Homo sapiens: one gene and its partners. The protein of the gene in region 1 interacts with the protein of each later gene in a pairwise test. Each region holds a gene or a part of one and is shown in the gene's direction. Other genes may lie near its edges.

What was found. The genes of interacting proteins can lie anywhere in the genome.
Region 2: the proteins of SPRED1 (region 1) and GLI4 interact in binary tests that used the Homo sapiens proteins (3 or more experiments, as listed by UniProt).
Region 3: the proteins of SPRED1 (region 1) and TRIM35 interact in binary tests that used the Homo sapiens proteins (3 or more experiments, as listed by UniProt).

Annotation. Positions count from the first base shown.
Region 1 is NC_000015.10:38,254,900-38,263,723, forward strand, and holds part of SPRED1 (sprouty-related, EVH1 domain-containing protein 1), read left to right. Parts: exon of another isoform or gene 1-4; intron 5-8,824. UniProt on the Homo sapiens protein: Tyrosine kinase substrate that inhibits growth-factor-mediated activation of MAP kinase. Negatively regulates hematopoiesis of bone marrow.
Region 2 is NC_000008.11:143,263,416-143,270,480, forward strand, and holds the start of GLI4 (zinc finger protein GLI4), read left to right. Parts: upstream 1-4,029; 5' UTR 4,030-4,069; intron 4,070-5,944; 5' UTR 5,945-5,981; coding exon 5,982-6,105; intron 6,106-7,065.
Region 3 is NC_000008.11:27,284,350-27,287,461, reverse strand, and holds the end of TRIM35 (E3 ubiquitin-protein ligase TRIM35), read left to right. Parts: 3' UTR 1-2,576; downstream 2,577-3,112. UniProt on the Homo sapiens protein: E3 ubiquitin-protein ligase that participates in multiple biological processes including cell death, glucose metabolism, and in particular, the innate immune response.

The DNA of each region.
Region 1 (8,824 bases):
GACGGTAACTTTTATTGGTATCTTTCAAAAAGTTTGGATTAAAAATGTTAAGTTTTCTTTTAGAGATGGGAAAAGACTTCTTACCAGTTTAATTTTTTTCTTAAAGCAGTGAATATCTCCTTGTTTCCTTCTGGTTGCAGCTAATAAAAAAAGCAGATGATGGAATGTGAATTAACACAAGTAAAATATATTTTTTCTAAATGGCCATTTTTTTAAATACTTGCCATAAATAAATTGAGACAACAGGTTTTTTTGTATAGTGATAGTGCGTTCCACTGCTATTACAGTAAATTGAGAAAATACTCCCAGTGATTTAATCCCCAAGATGTTGATATTTGAAACACCGATGGCAATCTTCAGTGAGAGGATTGCTTTAAATATTTTTTTTTCATCTAAATGTACTTAGTATGGGACAACTTGGAAATTATCTCACTCACCCAGACTTTTAAAATCGTTTTTTCACAAATTTATCCTGCTTTATTAATAAATTATTCCCTAGGAGCTTTGTAATACTTTTTAAGTTTGGGCAGGGCGATAATAATATTTAGCATAATATTTTGGTAAACTCTTCATGGGAACAAAATCTTGGGGGTTTTACTTTAAAAAACTCTATTATATTAGAAAATAATGTGTTCATCTGATAATCAGTTTTACTAGAGCCAGCATTGTTTGCTTGTGCATTAGATAAACCACAGAGTGAACTTATTTGGAATGTAGCTTTTAATATAGTAATTTATGTCTCATCTTTAATAGGTGAACCGTTTTGAAATGGAAATTTATTATTTATAGTCATTATGAAGAAAGATACGTATCATGGCAGAAGCCATTAAGGCCTTAGCACAGTTTAAAACTGCCCTGTAACATGGATTTTATTTGGGCCTTACATTTTTTTCCCTTTTCTCTTTTTTAAAGCCATTGCTCATAGGGATTTAATTACAGTAGGGACTATTTTTAACATTCTTTAGTTTCTTTTTCACCTGATTTCAACCTTCAAGAAAAGTGAAAATCACCAGTTTCCTGGGAAACCATTAACCCTTTCTAGATAGCCATTGTGGTAAAATCCAGTAGGGCCTCATTCTGAAATCCTCGAGTACATGCTTATTATTTGAAATTAAAGTTTTATGTAGAGAAATGGATAACTCCTAGGCTGACTGTGAGAATATATTTAATCAAGAATTAGTGGGGGATCTGTTATGTGTAGGGCTTTGCTTTAATGCCAAACCAAGTAAGGAAGAAATAAATTAGAATAAAGCATTTCTTAGATTGTTTCACATTTATGTTTAAAAATCTTACTTTTCAAAAATAGTAAACATACTCTAGAGCAAAAGAATTTGTGTTATAAATAGTAGAGGAAATAGCCACATACATGTTTGTTTTGTAGGTAATTTGCACAGAGACTGTTTAATACTCCAGTCAAATGTTTCCGATAGATATAACTGTACCATATTTTACATTATTGAATTAGCCTTCTAAATAGAGTTTTAAACATTTAAAGGCATATTATATAATACTTAAGAGTCTTTGTCCTTTGGTATTGAGTGTATATAGCACTGCATGTCCTTTTGTCAATTTGGCCAAAACATTTGGAGAAGTGAAGTAGCTGAAATAATAAGCATTTGGCTTATTAGGTTCACGTTAGCCAGAAACACTTCCTGTGTCAGTATTAGGCTTTCTAATAGCAAGTTGGGATTATATTAGATTTTGGAATTAGGTTAACTAGAATTAGACCATGTATGATAAACGTACTATGTTGTAATCTGAGTTTGAACTGTTTTTCCGTAAATAGAAAGCAAATTTTTATGGTTATATCATTTAGTGCCTCATAAAAAATATACCCAGTGGTGAGTTATTTTTGATAAGTGTAAATAAACATATGTTCACCCCATACATTTTACGTATGTATATGTATGTACACACACACACATATATATATATATAAAATTGGAAAACATTCTAGAAATAAATGGAAGCACTGGAAAGCTGTGTAATATTAAGCCATCTAATGTTTGTTTATATAGATGTGGTGTATACATAATATAAAAATTTGCTTATTATTCAGTTGGCCTGTGTAAAAATCAGCTAAATGACTGCATACTTGCTTCAACTTAATTTCCCTCTGCTTTCTCACTTAAAACTTTATGATCCTGAATTATATATTTTAAACACATTATGATACCATACCTAGAATTCCTCTCCTTACAAACTTTTGTAAATTTGTCATTTTTCCCCAAAAGACCTTCTCTCTTCCCCTCTTTCAACACTCTGTCCCTCTATGTTGCCTCTGTACTTCGTACATATGTATATTAGTTTTAAAATCATATAATATTGTGATTATTTACTTATTTCTATGACCGCTATTCTGTAATTCCCTACTTTTGTTTGTATGCCTAGCACAGTGCTTGATGGCAAATGCTCTACAAATGTGGTTGAATTAATGGAGCCTCATTACCTCATTTTTTTGTTTTCTCTGAATTTATGCATTTGAGATCATTAGCTGTATTAGAAAAAAAGGCCGAAAAAGAGTATGGGAAAAGTAAATTATTACCCGTTTAAGAAGGCTTACCTTTTTTTTTAAGAAAAGACAAAAATTGGCCTCATTTTTGACATGTTTTGTTTCTGCAAGTTTGAGAAATAACTTAGATCAGGCTTAAAAACTGTCCTAAAGTGCTGTTGGGATGTTTGGATGTGCTTGGCCTCTGAGTTATGTGGTGTATCTGAAGACCCGTGTTATATCCACAAGAAGGTAGACATTTGTGTGTCTGTCTTTTTTGGCATAGGAAGCTCAAAATTTAGGAATATGTATCTCCAGCTGTTTATCAGTTTTAAGTCTTTAAATTGCTCTCCCTTTCCCCCATGGTTCCACATTAGTGCCAAGGGTGAGGAACTGACTAGGGATAAAGAAGTGAAATTGATCAGGAAAGGGTAAACAGCAGCAGATTCCGTGATTTTATACTGCAGCTGTTGGTGACTGAGAACTGCCTAAGGGGAAAGTGTAACAATTTAGCCTTTTCTCTGGTGTTGTATAACTTGAACTTGACTAGTCTTACCCAGTTTGGGGAAATGATTGGTAAAGACAAGCCTGCTTTTCTTCTCCATCTTTCAGTAGGAACAGGAACGACATTAAAAATGCCAATTTAAAAAATGCTTCACCCCATGTAAGAGTAGTAGTTTATTTCAGATAATGTACAAAATGATCTCTAAAGTGAGTAATAATTTATTTGCAATTCTGCCATTAAATAACAGCTGCTAAAATTTTGGTCTACATGGAAACCTTTCTTATGATGTTGGTGATGAAACATATTCATTTATTAGATTTTTACTGTATGCCAAGCACTGTTATAAATGCTTTATGAAAGCATTATGTAGTTTATATATATACATGTGTTTCTTCTCAGTGGAATGGAATTGCACAGTGGGTACAATTGTAGCTTAATGTGAATATTTTCTTAAGTCGTTAAATATTCTAGAATATAATTTTTAGTGGCTACATTATGTTCAGTGTATGATATACATTAGTTGTAATCAGTCTCCTATTGTTGGATATTTTAGTTATTTTTAAACAATGTTGCATACCATCCTGAGTTCTGTCTCCATCCAGATCTCTTACTTTTCCCTTGAGATAGTCTAAGAATGGAGTTAAAAGAGAGGAAAATATTTAATTTTATTCTTTCTGTTAAATTGCCCTCTAGAAAAGAAGTATTTAGTATATGAGAGTGCTTAAACTTTGAAATGTCTGTACAGTTGTCTGAATTTTTCTTTGCCAATTTTGAAGGTAGAAAATGAAGTCTTATTTTTTAAATGCTTTATGGTAAAATAAAATTGATTTAAAAACTTATTAGGTTGTTTTGCGGTAACTAGAATGTTTTTAAATGCTATATTATAAATAGAATTTAAGTGCTCATGTAAAAGCCATTTGTACATCATTTATTTAACTCTTACCATCTTCTGTGCAGTATGGTATAGTCTAAAGAACACTGGACTTGAAATTGGGAGATGGATTTCTTTTGTAGCTATTTTTAATTTATTCTCTAATCCTGGGCTCTGTAGGCCTCAGTTTGCTGATTTATAAATTAAAGAATTTGGACTAAGCATCATATGTGCCCTTCCTTTGTTGATGGTGTATGATTTAGACTTTGTTAATTTTATTATATTGTTATTTTTGACATACTTAAACAAAAGACTTAAGAGTAGAAGTGGTAGGAAGATTAGGTAAAAGCATGCATTTTGAACAATTAAGATACAAAATTTGGAAACAATTGGTATATTAATAGTCTTTTAAGACTTACTTTGGGCTTAATAGCCATGTATCTTTGATGACACAAAATTTTGTACTACTCAATTTTGTTTTTTATGTATTTATTTATTTTAAAGAGGCAGGGTCTTGCAGTGTTGTCCAGGCTGGAGGGCAGTACAGTGGTATGATCATAGCTCACTGCAGCCTTGAACTCCTGGGTTCAAGTGATCTCCCACCTGTGCCTCTTAAGTAGCTAGGACGACAGGTGTGCCACCACACCTGGCTAATTTTAAAATTTTTTGTGGTGATCGGGTCCTGCCCAGGCTGGTCTCAAATTCCTTGGCTCAAGTGATCCTCTTGCCTTGGCCTCCCAAAGGGCTGGGATTACTGGCATGAGCCACCATGCACAGCCCTCATTTTAAAAAAGAGAAAAAAAGTATGGCCTCCATCTGTGGATGAATAAGTAAACAAAGGCTATTGGGCTTAAACACCAACTTGATTAGTTCTACAAGGAATATGCTAACAAGATACCAGTCTTTATGCTTTACTTACAGAAGTAAGTTTTTTACTAGGTCACTTATACAAATCAGTAATGTAACACTAGGGGATAACTGTATATTAGTTTAAGAAGTTAACTCAGGTAATGAATTTTGTTATTCTTTAATGTTTAGATTTATGATAAGTATTATGTCATAGCTGCATCTCAGAATCCAGAACCAAAATTATTACATATCTGTGAGATTGTGTTTTTGCGATACTCAGAATGAAAAACAGTTCATTAATAATGGATTTCACGCTAAGGTATTATGTTGCTGTAGACAAAGCATTCTTAAAATTCAGAGTGTTTGCGGGCTTGAAGGAAAATGTGACGTTCTTACTAATCTCAACCTGAACATTCATAATTAAAGGAAGTGTTAACAAGCTATGACAGTATTAGAGGTACTTGTGACAGCAAATGTGTTAGTTTTTATTGCTGCTTTAACAACGTACTACAAATTGGGTGGCTTAAAAAGCAACAACAAGTTTATTGTCTCACAATTACTAAAGGTCCAAAATCAAAAAGTTGGCAGGGCCATGTTCCCTCTAAAACCAGTAGGGGAATCCTTTCTTTTGTCTTCCTTGCTTCTGGTGGTTGTTGGGAACCTTTCACATTCCTGAGCTTGGAGCTGCATAATTCCATGTCTTCATCATCACATGGCGGTGTTCTCCCTGTGTGTTTCTATCTTCATTTGAGTGATACCAGTCATTGGATTAGGAGCCTACCCTACTGCAGTATGACCTCATCTTAACTAATAAGGTCATGGGGCTAGGACTTCTACATGTATTTTGGGGGAGACACAGTTCAACCCATAACACCAATAGAAACTACGGATTTTTTTTTTCTTATAGCACAATTGCTGTTAGCTGTTACAGCTATCTTGAAATACCATTTATAGTCATCACTAATTTGAAATTATTATAGTTATTAAAGCTATTGCTAGAGCATATATTTTAAAGTGTTAATAAAGAACCGCATTATTACCATATCAAAATGAAAAATATTTCAATAACTATGTCAATATAATTAATTTCTTTTGTAATACTGTGTATGTTGTTTTAGGCCCCTAATATTGTTCTGAGAAAGGGGTCATAAGCTTTACCAGGCTGCCAAAAACATCCATGACACAAAAGGCTAAAATCTTCTGCAATGGACAGAAGCCCAGAAGCCTGAACCCAAAGATAGAGATATAAAATAGGAAGAGTAAGAAACATGAGGATAAGATGAGTAACTCCAACATACAGCTAACAGTTCCAAAAGAAGAGAATAGAGGAGACGAAATATTACAAATAGTGGCTGCAAATTTTTAAGAACTAGCAAATCAAACCTCACTCAGCGAACTAGAACAAAACAAAGCCTCACAGTCAAATGGGGTTTATCTTGAGGATGTAAGAATGGATCAACATGAGAAAAGCAGTGCATTTTATCACATTTGAAGATTAATGGAGAGAAATGATACGATCTTAATAAATGCCAGAAATGTCATTTAATCTCTGCCCATAATAAAGTAAATGTTCATAAATATAGAGACAAATTATTTTTCTGCTCTCTAGAATTTCAGATTTTTAATTTTTCTGATTTAAAACGAGGGTGTGGGATTTACTTAACTTTGGGATTTTAGTCCAAGAGTTCTAGAATCATAACTGATTTTTTTGTACTTCTGAATTAATATATCATTTCTGTTACTCAGATGTAGGATTGACTGGTGGAAATTGCCTTGTGTCTGAAATTTCTGAATTACCTTGCAAGGCATTTCTTTCTGTGTTTGGAGAGCAAAGAATAACCTTTAGTAAATTCAAGAGTAATTGGAATTAAATTTCAGCCTAATATCAGTTTAATAATTTTATGTCTAAATTTAATCTGTATGACAGGAGTTATAATTTGTTTTTGTTTTTGTTTTTGTTTTTTTAATTTATTTTTTAGACGGAGTCTTGCTCTGTCTCCCAGGCTGGAGTGCAGTGGCGCCATCTCGGCTCACTGCAAGCTCCGCCTCCTGGGTTCACGCCTTTCTAACAGGAGTTATAATTTGGATAAAGGCCATTATGAACTTGGAATGTGGAATGTAATTCTTTTTCCTGGTAGTATTTAGTGATACTATTGCATGTGATTAAACACATTTTGCTTGAGCTGTTCATGTAGTTAGGAATTACATTCACAAATACAGTGTTTTTTAATGACTTCTATATATTAGCATCCCGTGGCAGGATTGCCAAAAATTTAGATAAAATTTAGTGAGTTGTGTCTTTTCTGATGCCACTTTTTCAAAGTTACTGTAACTTTTACCACTTCAGAGTGTTTTTATTCACTTCAGCACAGTCACCAAACTCTTTTTTTTTTTTTTTTACTGTTTTATTGTGTTATTTTTATACTGTGAGATTGGGGAGTTCTGGGGTTTCCCCCCTTAATATGTAAAAGCAGTATTAAACATTTCAGAATTTTAGTTGCTGGATTATATATATTGACTTTTTACACTTTCAGGATAGATTTGAACAGGGACCATTAATAACTTTTTCCTAAAGAAATTCAGTTCAGTGGCATTTGAATGAGTGCTTACTAGGCACTTGACTTTTGCCTTAGCTTTGGAGATACAAAGATAATTAAAACTTTAAAATCGCTATCACAGTCCACAAGGGAAATAGATACTTCTGAAATGTGATGGGTGTTCTGGTTATAAAGTTCTTCAAGGCTCAAGGAGAAAGTGATTCTACCTGGGAGTTGGTGGCAGGATGGTGACTGTGTGAAGGAAGGCTTCAGGAAAGAAGTGGCATTTTAAGAGTCAGCCATGAATGAGAGCATGGAATGGGGGAAGGGTATTCCAACCAGGAAGAGAGGGGGCAGAAGACAAGCACAGAAAGAAGAAAAAGTTGGAGGAAAGGCAATACCTTTTTGGATACAGTTGTTTGGAGGAGTTGTTAAGGAAAGTGTTGAGGGACCAGATTGTGAGTAGTGTAGATTTGTGCTTACCTGTATATCACCAACTGTGGGGCAAGGGATGGTGGCTAGGCCTAAAATATGAGACACAATATGAGCATGGCAGAAGCCCCTGGAAATCAGTTTTTCTTGAAAAGTTGAATATTTATCTGACTGGTTAGTAATAAGATGAATTTTGAACAGAGTTCCCATTAATTTTATAGATGAAACACCGAAGAGTTGAAAGAAAATTTGTTCTTTGAGCTACCTTCCCTCCTCACCACAACTATCTTTAGTCAGTAAGGATACTTAATGAGAGACACCAGGTGAAGTTTTCATCATGTAGACAGTGGCGACTCAGTATTTTAAGTGAGGGAATGATAATCCAATTTGTGTAAAGCAGGGCTTCTTAGGACAGTTGACTGGAGGGAGAAGAAAATGAACTTCAGTTGATGAGGAAGAATGTAGTAAGACAACAAAACAGAGCTGGGAATAGAGCATTTGGAACTATTGGGGACTCATATGAGAAGAAATTCAAATGTCCAACGATTATTTGACTGAATGTGAAGGAAGGAGTAGGAAGGTTGTGGGATGACTTGAACATTTTAAATTTAGGCCGCTGTAATGCTTTTAAATGAAGGTGGGAATAGAGATGAACCCGGTTTTTTAAATGGGAAAATAACCCAGTTTTGATCTTTTTTAGTCTGGGTGCTTACTGGATGTCAAGGTAGAAAGTGTCCAACAAGGTGCTTTAACTATAGGTTGAGTTCTCAAAAAGGTTAAGAGGGTAGAGTTATAGTGACATCTTCAGCATATATAGTAGTTGAGGCCAGTGGAAAATTTCCCATTGAGAATATTAAGTAATAATGGAAAGATGACAAGTGAGAAACAGCAGTGTTTTTAAGGGAGAGTAGAAGAAAGAAGAGACGCCAAAAGACGGAAGTGGCTTAAGTGGTAGGAGAGCTCTGAGAGGAAAGTATTTTAGAAGCCAAGGGAAAAAGGAGTATTGAGAAAGCGTTAGATATCACAGAAAAATTAGATTGGTGATTTCTAAGACAAGGATATAACCGTTAGGATGTCATTGACCTTTGTGGGAGTAATAATGGGGACAGAAGTCAGGTTTTGCTATAGGTTGAGGGTGT
Region 2 (7,065 bases), on another chromosome or scaffold:
TGGAAAGGCATGGAGCGGTGCGGGAACAAGCCTCTGCGGTGGCTGGAGATGTGGGGATGGAGACTGGTCATGCCTTCACACACTTAACCAGAACCCTCCCAGCTCTCCCTCCCCTGCAACCAAGCCAGCAAGGCGACACGGTGGCTGGCGCTGGCGAGAGGCAAGTGTGCTTGACTGCCTTTCTCCACTCTTGAGGACAACACCCAGAGTGGCCCCGTCTTTGCCCCACCAGCCCAGGCCTAAAGCTTCCTCATCATCCGCATCCCGGCCTGGGACTTAGGCGGACTTCTGCCAGCTGTGTCACGTGCAGGGGACTGCAGCCACTGACCCCCTCTCCCTTCTGTCCTGCTCTTCTCTACCCCACAGCCCCAGGCAGATCTTCAGTGCATGTCAGCTCTCCTCCCTCCCTCCCTGCAGACCCCTGTGCCCCGCAGTGCCCTGAGAATGACGTCTGAGCCCCCAGTGGAGGTGTCAAGGCTGTTCGGTCTGTCCCCATCCCGTTCTGTCCTCCCCTTGCTCACCACACTCCCCTGCCTGGTCTTCCAAACTCGAACCCCAGGCAACTCCTTCAGGCATCAGACCTCTGCCCCTGCGCCCCTCCTGCCTCTCTGTGATGGGCTGGCCCTTCCCTTCTGCTGCCTCCCCTCCCTCCTTCCTGCTCCAACCCCTATCTCTCTCTGATGCTGCCCCTTAGAGAAGCCTTCTTGGACCTTAAGCCTGGCCACTCCTCTAAGCCCCTCATCTCCAGGTGTGGTCTAGGAAGTGCTCTCAGCCTCTCTACTCCAGTGGCTCGGGGTCTCTGACCAGCCCTCCTGCCAGGGAAGCTTTGAAGGTTCCCACAGGGACCCCTAGAGACAAGGGCACTGCCCGTCCAGATGGCACCCTCACCCCAACCCCAGCAGCACTGGCTGGAGCAGGCCATGCCTGTGTGGGTATCTGAACAGGCACTGGATTCCCCGATCTCAACAAAAGAAGCCCATGGAGGCCTTTTCTAATCCACAGTCCAAGAGGACAAATCAAGACAACAGGCTGGGGGGGCTGGCTGTGGGCCGACTCCCACGTCTTAGGACCAGGGGCTCTGGGGCTGTTTGGGCTGGAACCCCTCCTCCCAGCATAACAAACACTAGCTCATTATTTACAGTGAATACCCAACAAAACCCTGCTCGAGGTGAGGAGCGGGGACCTGCTGCTCCAACAGACCAGACTGGCTGCTGGCTCCGAGCTCATTAAATCAGCAACCTTTGCACTCCCTCCAAAGCCCTGCCCGTCACCTTCACACCTCCCTGGTGGGGGAAGGGGATTCTTCCACTCTGATTACACCCGTTCCCATCTCCCTTCACTCCTGTGAGCTGGCCAGGCTGAGGATTTGTCCAAAGGGCCTGGGGAGTGAGACGCTCCACAGCTTCTCATGGGTCAGCCGACATGGACGGTAGCTTGGGTGACTCAGCTTCCCGTGATGCGCTGGATGCACAGGGAGCTGGTGACAACAGCCTGTGTGTGTGACAGAACAGCCTGTGCGTGTGACAGGACGTCAAGAACTACATACAAAGACACAGCTGCCCCCAAAAATGAGTCTGCACAGCCTGGTGCAATGCAGCTGCAGCCTGTCATCGAGTCAATTGCATTGTCGTCCGCCGCTCTCCTGATGTAGTTCTGTGTTTGTCCATTTTGCACTGCTATAAAGGAATACCTGAGACTGGGTAAGTTGGTGAGCGCCTGTAGTCCCAGCTACTCAGGACGGTGAGGCAGGAGAATAGCATGAATCCGGGAGGCGGAGCTTGCAGTGAGCCAAGATCGCGCCACTGCACTCCAGCCTGGGCCACAGAGCGAGACTCCGTCTCAAAAAAAAAAAAAAGAAAAGAAAAAAGAGGAGCTGGGCGCAGTGGCTCACGCCTGTAATCCCAGCACTTTGGGAAGCTGAGGCGGGTGGATCACCTGAGGTCAGGAGTTCAAGACCAGCCTGGCCAACATGGCAAAACCCCGTCTCTACTAAAAATACAAAATTATCCGGGCATGGTGGCGCATGCCTGTGATCCCAGCTACTTGGGAGGCTGAGGCAGGAGAATCACTTAAACCTGGGAGGCGGAGATTGCAGTGAGCCGAGATCGCACCAATTGCACTCCAGCCTGGGCAACAAGAGCGGCAACTCCATCTCAAAAGTAAATAAAGAACAAAAGGGGTTTGCTTGGCTCACAGTTCAGATCAGCGTTCAGAGGGTGCTGCTGTCCCTGGTCATACTGTACAAGAAGAGGCTTCTGGGGAGGGCTCAGGAAGCTTTTACTCACAGCAGAAGGCAAAGTGGGAGCCAGGGCATCCGTCACTTGGTAAGAGCCAGAGCAAGAGAGGGGCGGAGGCGCCAGGCTCTTTTTAACAGCCAGCTCTCACTCATCACCAAGGAGAGGGCACCAAGCTACTCATGACCCAAATAGCCTCCCACCAGGTCCCACCGCCACCATCAGGGGCCACATTTCCATGAGATGTGCAGGGGGCTCACTTCCAAACAGTATCAGATATAGTACTAGTTCCTTTTTTTTTTTTTTTTTTTTGAGACAGAGTCTCATTCTGTTGCCCAGGCTGGAGTGAAGTGGCGCGATCTCGGCGCAATGCAACCTCCGCCTCCCGGTTCAAGTGATTCTCCTGCCTCAGCCTCCCAAGTAGCTGGGATTACAGGTGCCCGCCACCGTGTCCGGGTAGCTTTTTTATATTTTTAGTAGAGATGGGGTTTCTCCCTGTTGGTCAGGCTGGTCTCAAACTCCCCACCTCTGGTGATCCACCCACTTCAGTGTCCCAAAGTGCTGGGATTACAGGCGTGAGCCACTGCGCCCGGCGCTACTTATAACTTTTTAAGAAACTACCAAGCCAATTTCTAGAATGGCAGCACCACTTTGCCTTACCACTGGCGATGTCCCAAGCTGCTCCGCGACCTCAGTGATGCTTGGCACTTGTTAGCAGTTTTTACCTGAGCCACCTGGCAAGTGTGCAGTGGCACCCACCGCGATGCTGGCCGGCCCTTCCCTGACAGCCATCCCTTCCCGAGCCTATTGCCATCCCTGTGCCCTCTTCGGTCAAACGTCTGTTGCGGCTCTTGCCAATTTTCTAACTGGAATGTTTGTTTTCTTGCGGTAGAGTTTAGAGATTTTTACATATTATCAGCCTGGGGGCTCCTCCACCCACACAGCCCTGAGCGTCCACCCTGGCAGCTGTTGCCCGTCTGCAGGCCCCCCCGCCCTCTGCTCCGCGTGCCCCTCCAGCTCAGGGGTCCCCTCGCCTCGGCTCTCTGCACCCCTGCTCAAAACGGTCAAAGAACCCTCCCCGGCCGTTTATTTTTCCCAGAAAGTGACAATTTTCTCTTTTCAGGTCGTAAGCACAGAACTGAGGGAGAAACTGTGGCTGAACAAGAGGAAAATGAGGAAGGAGTCCATGAAGGGGCTTTGGGGAACCTGTAACATCCTCCTCAGGCTCCCGGGGACGCCCCTGGAAAGCAGGCAGAATCGAGGGCGCTGGGGCCCCCGCGAGGGGAGCGGGAGGTCGCGCGTCTCGCAGCGGTTCCCGGCCGCCGGTGACCATCGCTGCGGACACATCCCGAGGAGGGAACCCAAGAGGGCGGCGGGGGGGACTCGCGAGCTGAACGTGGAAGCAACTCCAGCCGAGGACCCCCGGAGGCCTGGAGTGCACGGAGGGGCCGCGGGCAGCGTGGGGACGGCGCCGTCATCTCCCGAAGCCCGGCCCCGCGCTGGCTCCCCGGGCGGTGCAGGGCCGGCGTCGGGAAGGAGGCTCCGAGGCGCCGGCTTCTGCGCCCCACGCAGCGCCGCTCCCCGCGCCCGGGCGCTTTGCAGGCGCGGGCGGGATCCGGGCCAGCGTGTACGCGAAAGCCACGCGCGGGCGCAGCCCACGAGGGGAGGGGCGGGGAAAGGCCTCCTCTTCGCTCCCGGCCCCGCCCCCACACGGCCACCGAGGCGTGCGGTCCTCCCGGGGCCCAGAGCGTCCCGGAAGTGCGCGCCGGCCGGGCGGAGTGGGGCGGGGCCGGACACTTCCGTCCGGCGCGCGGCGTCCTCCTCCCGCTCGGAAGGTGAGTGGGCGCGGGCGGCGGCGGCGGCTCCGGGTGCCTGGGACCAGCCCAGTCCGAGCTCGTGCGCCGTACTCCGCGGTGCAGCCCTGCCCAGCCGGGCCGTGCGGCCCTTGCAGCCGCCGCTCGCCGTGACCTTGGCCTTGGGCCAAGCCCGGGGAGCGGGGTGGGCTCCTGGGGGTCGCGGAGCAGCAGCGGACCGCCCCGCCCAGCGGCCCTGGCGATAGCGGGTGTCCGTTCGCAGGGCGCCTTTCCCAGGCACCCAGTGACGGCAGCTGTCGTCATCGCCACTCTGCAGATGGGAAACTGAGGCCCGGAGGTCCCGCCGCTCCGGAGCGAGGAGCCGCCGGACCCCAGCGCCGCACCGCCGGGCGGACGCGCTCTGTGCCGAGCTCCCGGCGATTGGGTCCGCTCCCACGGGGCTGGGAACAGAGGGGCAGAGGATGCTTCCCCCGAGCCGCTGGCAGGAGTGCCCTTCCCCCTTCAGTCTGGAGCTCAGAGTTTGTGCGTCCCTGGGGGTGAAGGGGCGTCCACGCTGTGATGGTCGCCTCTGCTCAGTCCTGGGGGCCAAGCCAGGGTCGGGGTGATCGAGCAGGCCCTTTTACCAGGTGTCCCCAGTAAGTTAACTAAGTAACTTGAGATGTGACTTCAGGGTGGAGGACCTGCACCCAGTGGCCACCTACCTGGTGACCTGACCCTTCCCATCATTAGGGGATGGAGGCTGGCCCAGAAGCCGGGCACTGGGGTGGCGGCCGTGTGGGAGCTGCCTCTCCCACTTCCTCGAAGCAGGCACTGTCTGCTGTTCTTAGATCTGAGTATCCGTTAACTTTTGTCCTCTTTTCCCGTTCCTTTCTTCACTCCCTGCCCCAGATTAGGAGTTCCTACTCTATCACAGTATGAAAGAAAAGTCACTTTTCACATTGGACTCAAGCCGTTTTTGCAAAGTAAACTAAGAAGTGTCTTGGAGCCCTGAGTGAGTCTCCCAGTGCTGCTGCAGGGCTGGACTAGGGGATTCCAGCCTGCAGTCTCTGAGGGCTCTGTAGGGTCTGAGGAAGAGAGTTGCCCTCTGGAAACGTCTCTTCTCTGCTGTTCGGGAAAAACCTTATTAAGATTTCCTCCAAAACACTCATGCGCAGCAGGCATGGTTCGGTTTTCAGCCCTCCCACAGGGCCAGCAGCTGAGGTTTTTCTGGAAGACTCCCTATGCCTTTCTCTGGGGGAGGGGTGATGCCACGGGCTGGAAGGAGATGCCAGAGCCTCTGCTGGGACAGGAGCTTCGCTTCAGCCCCCACAGGCGTCTGCTGTGCCGCCCAGGCGGTGGCTGCTTCCTAAGCGCGCCTTCCAAGGCGTTACTCCTTTGCTGCTGCTGCTGCTGCTGCTGTTGTTTGAGTCTTGCTGTGTCTCCCAGGCTGGAGTGCAGGGGCGCCATCTCGGCTCACTGCAACCTCCACCTCCTGATTTCAAGCTGTTCTCCTGCCTCAGCTTCCCAAGTAGCTGGGATTACAGGTGCCCGCCACTGCGCCCAGCTAATTTTTATATTTTTAGTAGAGATGGGGTTTCACCATATTAGACAGGCTGGTCTCAAACTCCTGACCTCATGATCTACCCACCTCGGCCTCACAAAGTGCTGGGATTACAGGCATGAGCCACCGTCCCCAGCCACTCAAAGCGTTATTCCTTACTGAATAAATGTGCCAGGTCCCCCAACTGCCTCACCCCAGGCCTATGTGTCTCTGTGGGTTCATCCTCCATCCTTGCTCCTCCTGGAGTGGATAAACCTCCATCTCCCCTTGGAGAGCTGGCATGTTGCCTCCTCCTGCACCATCCCCCCGACATTCCTCCCAATCCCCTCATCTGCCATGGTTTTCATTTTCCCCAGGTCCCAGGTGTGACACCTTCAGCAGGTCTCAGGGAAGATGGCAGCCCTAGGGGACATTCAGGAGTCCCCTTCTGTCCCGTCCCCTGTCAGTCTCTCATCACCGGGGACACCTGGAACCCAGCACCACGAGCCTCAGCTTCACCTCCATGGGCATCAACATGGTACTCACCCAGCCCGCTGTGCGCCCTCCACCCTGCATCCCCTGCCCTCACGTCCCCTGCCCTGTCTCCTCCTGACCTGCCACGCTGGCTGACTTGAGAGGCGCCTCCAGACACCTGTATGCAGCTCCTTCAGCAGCTGGGGTTCCCACACCCTCAGGCCAGGGGCTCGGCGCGGGTTGGGTTGGGGCAGCGGTGGTTGAGGCTGGGGCCAAGCCTGAGCTCTCGCTCCCTAGGGACAGCTCCCCGCATTGTTTCTTTCCTGAGTTGAGGTATAGGAGGGAAAGTGGCCTCAAAATCTGGATCCAGCGTGACCAGGAGCAAGGCATCGCCCCTCTGAGTGTGTGTTGTCATTCAGGAAGTGGAGCAGCCAGAGTCCTTGCCAAGCTGGTTTGGGTGTGATCCCCCGGGACTCGCAGGGACAGAGCGCCAGCCTTGCTCCACCCCTGATGTTGTGGCCTCATGGTCACATGGCAGGCTCTGGGAGTTGAGGTGTGGGGGAGTCCCAGCCCCATAGTGCCCCTGGCTCTACTCCCTCTCAGAGGTCAGGGATCCTGAGGCTACATCTCTGCTGGGTGTTCCACAGGAGGCCTGGCCTCGGCCCTCGTGGCCCAACCCAGCACATGAGCTGCTGACAGCAGGGGCAAGGCCCCATATAGGTCAAGCCTGGAGAGCCCGTGCCTGGCCCAGGAATGGGGGCAACCTGGCACAGGGTTCTCCCTCTTGGGGAGTCAGAGTCCTGGTGGCTGAAGGGACCACTGAGGCTTGTGGAGAGCAGCTGCGCTGCATGGGGCCCTCAGGTGGGCACTCAGATGGGGACAGAGAGTCCGGGGGGCTCCCCCAAGGAGCCAGGACCAGGGTGAGTTAGAGGAGCAGGGAGCCAGGCAGCTTGGCATCCACTCCCCTGCAGCCCTGCCGTCTCCGCTGCGGTGTCCCGAGCAACTCCCCAGGGACTGCGAGGAG
Region 3 (3,112 bases), on another chromosome or scaffold:
GCCCCTGCCTCCTTGCCAGGCTCTTCCTCCTGTCCTGCCTGGTCCTTTTCCATGACTCCAGGCTGTGCCTCTCTCCATGTTTGGTCCCTTCTGTGCCCATGGTCAGGAGCTATTCGGGTGGCACCTCGCTGGCCAGGCTCTCCCGAGTCGTGGCACCTCCACAATGTGAATTTTCTGAATCCCTATTCCAGGATTTCTGGGAATAATGTTTACTTCTAGAATGGGCCTGTTGTAAACCATCTCATCGAGGTGTGGTAAAGCCATTGGATGAGGAGGGGACTGCCATGGAAAGGAGAGTTTGTTACTTACGGTTCTGAGAGGAGGGGCCACATAGGAAAGCCCCACGGTGGGTCAGAAGGCGGAAGGAGGGAGGGGAACGTGTGGGCAAGAGACTTCCTCTGGTTTCCTCAGGAGGAAATGGGCAAGGCAGAGTAAGCAGGGGAGACAGGTTTAAGGGTAGCTGGCTTGAGTAATTTCAGTGGCTCTCAGGATAGGGGCTGCCCTTTTTGTCTGATACCTGGCCCCGGGATAGTCAGGACAGGTGAATGTTGGCCTGGGGTGTGACAGCCCTGGGAGAGCCATGTGAAGGAGGCAGCTGGCGCCATCGCTCCGGATTAGTTGGTTTCCATAGGAAAGGCATGCTTTCAGCCAGATGCTTGCCATCTCTAGGGATTGGGGGATTGGCTAGCCTGGGAGGATCAGTCTGTCCAGGTCAGCGAGGCCCCAGATACCAGAGCATCAAGAGTACAGGAAATACAGTTAATGCAGGGCCTCTGTGTGGCTGGATCCTCCGTCTCCATCAGATCAGCTCTGATTGATCTATTCTTGCACGATTTCCTCTGAACACAGGGTTCCAGAGTACTTAAACACAACATTTTTTAAATCGTGATTTCGGCCTATTTCCTTGCCAGGCCTGTTTCCCCACCAGGAAATGAGATAGGAGGACTGGATGAGGATGTCCTGTTATAGTTGCTGTGGAGGAAGTTCCTCTGGTTAATTCTCATCAGCGTCTGCAGAAAAGAAGGAAAGAGGGCACCCTTTTCAGTTGGGAAGAAAGGAGAGGGGTGGCGCCATGGACGTGGCCCTAAACGCTGTGGGAGAGGGAAGAGGAGGCTGGGCCTCGCTGCCCTCTTGTCTCTGCTGACTTCAGCCTGGTCATGCTTGCTCTGCCACTTGCGATTTCATCCCTAATTTCTTCCTCCACCATGCCTGCAGACTTTTCCCTGGGCTTGTTTTTTCTCGCACATCTCTGAAGAGTTTTTAATCTTCAGCTCATCATGTCCCAGGAAGTGGCATCATAAAAGGAAATATTTTTTTTTCCTAGGAGCAGTGTTAAAATCTGGGTCACATTCCTGACCAAGGACAGCATCCTGCCTTCTGCCCATCCCCTTCAGTTCACAAAAGCTGACATTTTAAACAAATCATGACTCACACGTATTAATTGGTTATAAATATGTTGTGTACACTGGTTAGATAAAACTTAAGGCCACAAGGAGGGCCCAGGTAGGCGATGTCAGTGTGTGAAGGGGCTGGATTGGGCGTGGTGAGGATGTTGGCAAACCAGTGCATGCACCTGGTTGGAAGATGCTCAGCCTCACAAAAGCTCCAAGCCCTTTGGGAGCCAAAGTGTCTGAGAGTGTGACCCTCTCCTGTAAAGTATTTATCCCACCCATTAATATAATTTCTGTATAATAAACTTGACCTGAAATTATTTCATTCTTTATATTAAACTTTTAAAAATGTTTTTTATTTTCACCTTAGATATGGGAAGAGTTTTTTTTTTTTTTTTTTTTTTAACAGGATAACTTGAGCAGGCTAGGCCTCTTAAAAAAAAATTTGAGCTAAAACTCATTTTTCTTTTGGCATTTTCTTTTCAATGTTCTTATAAGCAAAGTTCATCCATGTTGTAGCATGTGTTCAACTTTATTTTTTCATCGGGTAATATTCCATTGTATGGAATGGTAGTACTACATTTTATTTATCATGCATCGATTGGTGGACATTTGGATCGTTTCTACTTCTTGACTATTATACATAATGCTGCTAGGAACTTTTGTGTATGAGTTTTTGTGTGGACATATGTTTTCATTTCTCTTTGGTATATGCCTGGGAGCAGATTTGCTGGATCATATGAAACTCTATTTAACCCTTGAGGGACTCCCAAACTGTTTTCCAATGTGGTGACACAATTTTATATCCCATCAACAGGGCATGAGGGTTCTGATGACTCCACATCCCTCAGTGCTTTTTATTATCTATCTTTTAACTTAGCCATCCTAGTAGGGGTAATGTGGCATCTCATTGTGATTTTGGTTTGCATTTCCCTGATGGCGAATGATATTGAGCATCTTTTCATGAGCTTATTGGCCATTTGCATATCTTCTTAGGACAGCTATCTTTAGATCACTTGCTCATTTTTTAATTGGGTTATTTGTCTTTTTATTATTGAGTTGTAAGAGTCCTTTTATAGCCTGGCACAAGTCCCTTTAACTGGTATATGATTATAAAATTTTTCTCCGTGAGCTGTTTCATTTCCTTGATGATGTCCTTTGAAATACTAAAGCTTTTAATTTTGATGATGTCCAATTTTTATTTATTTTTTCTTTTGTTGTACATGTATCCTAGAAATCTCACTTTTGATACTGCCCTTAGGTCCATGTAAGTTCGGGGTTTTGGCTCAGGGATGGGGCAGTTATTCTGTTGGCAGGAAGCGCTAGTCCACGAGTTCATTAATTCTTCCCTGAAGCCCCTCTCCTGCCCTTGCCTTCCACTCACCCCGTCACTCTCCTTCTCATTACTGTGTCCAGGCTCAAAGCAGCAGCTCTCTGGGAAGGCCCCCGTTCTCCAGTTTCTCCCACTTTTGCATCCATTCCACATGCACCATCGTTCATGTTCCCATCACCTGGAGAGACCCCATTTCCAACCCGCTGCAGTGCATTTCTCCAGGGCAGCTCTCAGGGCACATTGTCACTGCACTCTGCCTTTATACCCGGAGTCTTCTCAGTCCCGTCACACATGGCTCCAGCCGGACCAGGCTCCTGTTTACCCTTGAAATAGGCCACCTGCCCTCACCAGGGGCCCGTTGTCACTGGAATGTCCTGACCTTGGTTGC